2 separate regions of the Homo sapiens genome follow, and region 2 is linked to region 1. A link means that fine-mapping ties the variant in region 1 to the expression of a gene that starts in the linked region. Tissue or cell type: naive CD4 T cells. Region 1 holds a variant in brackets; the other region holds the start of a gene. All regions are shown on one strand. Distances are from middle to middle.

Region 1 (2,756 bases):
GAAGGAAGAAAGAGGTGTAGTTAGGCTTTTTTATTATTATTATTATACTTTAAGTTCTAGGGTACATATGCACAACGTGCAGGTTTGTTACATATGTATACCTGTGCCATGTTGGTGTGCTGCACCCATTAACTTGTCATTTACATTAGGTATATCTCTTAATGCGATTCCTCAAGAATCTACAACTAGAAATACCATTTGACCCAGCCATCCTATTACTGGGTATATACCCAAAGGATTCTAAATCATGCTGCTATAAAGACACATGAACACATATGTTTATTGCGGCACTATTCCCAATAGTGAGGCGTAGTTAAGATTAATGTGAGGCTCAAAACCAGGGTCAGAGTCCGCACGCACACCCACCTCTCACCCCACCTGGCTTCAGATAAACTGGGTAGGGGGGCTCCTGGAAAGGCCTCTCTGCACATCGCTCCAGCCACAGCAACAATACCCAGAGACACGGCCTCAAGCCCCCTGGAGTTGGACCGTCTCTGATCTTAGAAGGGTCAGACTAGGACAAAACAAGCCAAAAAGAGAGCTGCTCTTTCCCATCCCTATTTAAATAGAGTGAGACATGCTGAATGCATGATGGCTCTCGAATGTTCCACAGCAGGGGAGCTGCAGCAGAAGGAGGAAGGAAAGGCCAGGGAAGAGGAAGGAGAGAGGTGGAAATCAGAAATCAGGGTGCCTGCACCTGCCAGCAGGGATAGCACTACCCAGTGTTGGGGTCATGGGTAAAAGCAGACAGGCTCCACCTGGATGTCTAATACCTGTCAAGGGACAGCTGGGAGAGTTGCGAGCTGCTCACCCGTCTGCTGGTTATCTGCGTACACATCACACCGGAGGAGATATTGAAAAGGAGTTGTTTTGACAGTTATTTAATTAGGGCTCAGCTATGAATATGCAACCCAGTGGTAGCTAAATTGCCTTGTCCCATCAGTGCTTAATGACATGCTTTCATTCCTATTTCATTACAAAAAAAGGTATAAACTCTGACAGTGACCATCCCTGACGACAAATGAACATTGCTGATTAGAAGCCACCGGTTTGACTGAAAGCAGATGAGGGTTGCCTGGGAATTGGGCAGAGGGTGAAAAGGGGGGGTGACAAGGGCCCAGGACACTATCAGGATGATGGGCATTTTTTATTTATTTATTTATTTATTTATTTATTTATTTATTTATTATTATTATACTTTAAGTTTTAGGGTACATGTGCACAATGTGCAGGTTAGTTACATATGTATACACGTGCCATGCTGGTGCGCTGCACCCACCGACTCGTCATCTAGCATTAGGTATATCTCCCAATGCTATCCCTCCCCGCTCCCCGCACCCGGGCATTTGTTATTGAGACCATGGCGATGGCCTCAGGAGCGCACTGTGTCAAATGCATCAGCACTGTGCGTTTTAAACACCTGCAGCCTCTCCTTCTCAACACAACTGAAGACGGGTCCATGGGCATCATGACCGTTGAGGCCTCTTCATCACTGCTTCCCCCTGAGTTAGTCTCAGAAATCCTCCAAAATAAACCTTGGAGGACTAGTTTTTAAAAATGTTATAATGTT[T/A]ACAACGACAACAAAAAACCTTAAAAGCCAGGGAGACACGGGGGGAGCTGAGGTTTATAGAACCACCACATCTTTGCAAACATGGTCTCATTTGACGCTTACCACAGCTCTATGAACCTGGTGGTGTTATGACTCCCGTTGTACATGACACACAGTGGCTCTGAGAAGTTACAGAACATAGGTGGTATCTGGTGGAGCCAGTCCGTCTGTCCGGCAACACATTCCCTCTGTTCTCTGAGCATCCCATGCTGCTAACTATGGTGCCACCTTCATTTGCAGGGGATCACAGGACACGCAGGCTGCTTGCTCCTACCACCCTCATAGAGGTCTCTGTTTCCTCATGATCCTGCTTCAGGCCTTGCCATATTGTCATCATGTAATCGTAAGGTAAGCATGATTCTGCATTCTGCTGTTTTCATTTCACGTTGTCAATATTTTCCCGTGGTGCTCATATTTATTTGAAAGCCTTCATAAAACCCAATGAGTTGATGCCTTATGATGATTTATTAATACTTAATCCTAGTGTTAGACAATAAGATTGTTTCTAGTATTTTGCTATATAAGTTACACAACACCCAGCATATCGTGCAACAGGCAGTGTTAGGGAGTGGATGAGAATACAGCCCCACAGTCAGGCTGCCTGGGCTCGAATCCCAGAACTGCCGCAGAATGCTGTGTAGCTTGAGGCAGGTTTTTTTGACCTCTCTGCCCTTCAGTTTCTTAATTGATAAAGCAGAGCTAATACTACCACCTCTCTGAGTCTCCGGGCCCCTAGAACAGAGAGACCTGGCTCCAGTAATGCAGGGTCCTGGGTCCATGGCTTTCCCATCGCAGGCAGCCTCTCTTTTGGTGACCCCTCTTTTCTGTGGCTGCTGTGATAACCCAAACCCCAACTCTAACCCTAACCCTACCACAGACGTAGTGGCTTGGAACAACACAAAGTGACTAGCTTACAGTTCTGTAGAGTAGAAATCCAGCACACATCTCACTGGGCTCAAATCAACGCGCATCCCTCCCTGGAGGCTGCAGGGGAGAGTGGGAGCCTCACCGTTTGCAGCTTCTGGACGCACTTGCTCATCTCCCTTCCTCCAGCCTCAAGGCCGATGGTGTTGGATGAGTTCTCGTGTTGCTCTCTGATGGCTCTCTTCTGATTTCCTCATCCACTTTCAAGGATATAGGATTCATA
Region 2 (2,621 bases), 200 kb after region 1:
ACATGCACCTGTCATCCCAGCTTCTCGGGAAGCTGAGGCAAGAGAATCGCTTGAACCCGGGAGGCAGAGGTTGCAGTGAGCCAAGACCCCGCCTTTGCACTCCAGCCTGGGCAACAAGGGCAAAACTCCATCTCAAAAAAAAGCAAAAAAATTTTTACTTTTGCCGGGCGTGGTGGCCCATGCCTGTGATCCCAGCACTTTGGGAGGCCGAGGCAGGAGGCTCACTGCAGCCCAGGAGTTCAAGGCTGCAGTGAACTGTATCATGCCACTGCTCGCCAGCCTGCCCCACAAACATATTTTTTTTCACTTTTGCATATTTTACAAAGCACACACCCACGTGAGCGCATTGCCAGCCCCCTCGCCCCCCAGGACAAAGTGGAGACCCTGTCAGCGAGGAGGCTACCGCTTAAGTCCCTGGGGTTCTCCAGAGAAGGAGGAGAAGGCTCTGCAGAGCCATGCGCCCTGGACGGAAGAACTTTCAAAAGTAATTCAACAAAATAGAAACTTGTCGAATTACATTGCAGACAGCGCGTGCGGAGCAAATGTGTGTCCACGGAATATTCGTCGGGCACAAGAGGAATTCCCTGTCAGCTCCCAGGACCGTGGGTGCCCTGAGGCCGAGTCACGCTCCCCCGGGATAAAGAGGGTGGGGGCGCACACAGGCAAGGAGGAGGCGGGGTGGGGGGGTGCAGAATAAGGAACTAAGGTAAAAACGCCCAGTACTGGACTCCCCTCCGAGCAGCACCCCGAGAGGGCCCGGAGGAGCTGAGGCGGTGCGAGCCGAGACTGCCAGCCCCGCCCCCAGCAGGCCCCGCCTTCCGCTGCTCGCCACCGCCCCCGTGAAAAAAAACCAAACCGGTAACCTCTACCCGGCCGCCTCCCATTGGATATGTGAGTGAGCGATGTCCGCCCGGACCAATGAGCCGCAGCCACGGCTTGGCGAGCGCCTTCCGGCCCGCCCCCGCGCGGCCGCCCCTCGGACCACCGGACTGGCCTGGGGCGGGACGTGGGCGCGGGGGCGCGGCGTGCGGCACGCTGCAGGGCTGAAGCGGCGGCGGCGGTGGGGACTGCACGTAGCCCGGCGCTCGGCATGGCTCTCCTGGTGCTCGGTAGGTGCGGGCCAGCGGAGGGAGGCGGGCGAGCTGGGGTCGGCCTGAAAGGTTTCGAATCTCTAGGCCGTTCCCCGGCGGGCCGCGGCCGCAGGCGGCCGGAAGTGGGCCTGGCGGGCGGGAGGCGCGGGCCTCGGCGTCCGGAGGAGCTGCTAGGTTGCCCCGGCGGAGGTGCGGGTGCGCGGGAGACTCGGGCGCCCGTGGGGAGGGGCTTCCGCAGCCGCGGGGGGCGGGAGCCTCGTGCGCTGGAGCCGGGCGCGGGGTCCAGGGCCGGGCGGGAGAGCCGCGGAGCCCAGCCCCGGCCGGATCCCGGGGAGGGGGTCTGTATTCCCGGAGAGTCGCAGGGGAGCTTGTTCCGGGCTCTTCTCGAACTCGTGCGTGGGGACGGAGGTTGGCGGGCGTCCTGCACTGCTGCTTGTTTCTGCCACCTGCTTTATGCAGCTCCTACTTTTAAAAACTGAAATGTTAAGCCGGGCGCGGTGGCTCACACCTGTAATCCCAGCACTTTGGAAGGCCGAAGCGGGTGGATCATCTGAGGTCAGGAGTTCGAGACCAGCCTGACCAACATGGCGAAACCCCGTCTCTACTAAAAATACAAAATTAGTCGGGCGTGGTGTCGCGCGCCAGTGATCCCAGCTACTCAGAAGGCTGAGGCAGGAGAATCTCCTGAACCCCCAGGAGGCGGAGGTTGCAGTGAGCCGAGATCGCGCCACTCCAGCCTGGGCAACAAGAGTGAAACTCTGTCTCAGAAACGAAAAACTGAAATGTTAAATCTCAGTCCTGAAATAAGGACCCATAGTTCCCTTAGAAAGGGACAGTGCCTTCCAAAAGCTGGGCTTAAGACGCAGGGGCGCTTCGCATGTGATCGGACTCCTTAAAAACGAAATGGAACGCGGCGTCTTAGGAATTCTGTAAATGTCTGCTTCTTAGTGGGCGAGGCCGAGGGTCCTGTCCTTGCCGGGCTCGCCTTGGTCACAGCCTTGGCTCTGACAGTCCTTAACCTCGGCTCTGGCCTCAGACCACCTTCCCCCTATTTACTGGCTCTGTGACTTGGAGCAAGTTACTTAACCACTCTGTGCCAGTGCCTTTTCAACGGTGTTCACCATTTTAGGGACTGATAATAGTACTCCCTTAGGGTTGTCCTGAGGATTAATGAGTTAGTACATGTCTTTCTGTTTTTTGAGACACGGTCTTGCTCTGTCTCCTAGGCTGGAGTGCAGGGTTTCCATCATAGTTCACTGCAGCCTGGAACTCCTGGTCTCAAGGGATCCAGGCACATGCCACCACACCTGGCTAATTTTTAAATTTTTTGTAGAGTCAGGGTCTCATTGTATTGCTCAGGTTGGTCTCAAACTCCTGGCCTCGAGTGATCCTCCTTCCTCAACCTCCCAAAATCCTGGGATTACAAGTGTCAGTCACCTGGCCCAGCTAGTACATGTTTTAAAGAGATGTAAATATTTGCCATATTACTGTGGAGAGAGTAGATGAGGGGAAAAGAGTTTAGTCTGTTTA

The links. PIP is the estimated chance that this variant, and not a neighbour inherited with it, causes the effect.
Region 2: it holds the start of PDIA6, and the variant in region 1 is fine-mapped to the expression of PDIA6 in naive CD4 T cells (Schmiedel 2018, PIP 0.95).

The regions. Positions count from the first base shown.
Region 1 is chr2:11,006,119-11,008,874 of GRCh38, reverse strand. No RefSeq gene overlaps it. Among named protein-coding and RNA genes, the nearest start is that of KCNF1, 96 kb to the right of the region's middle. The variant T/A (reference allele first, on the strand shown) is at 1,571.
Region 2 is chr2:10,811,166-10,813,786 of GRCh38, reverse strand. PDIA6 (protein disulfide isomerase family A member 6) reads left to right here and starts at 1,002. Exons shown (of 13, transcript NM_005742.4): 1 at 1,002-1,109. The coding sequence starts at 1,091. RefSeq lists a silencer at 700-1,449 and an enhancer at 1,940-1,999.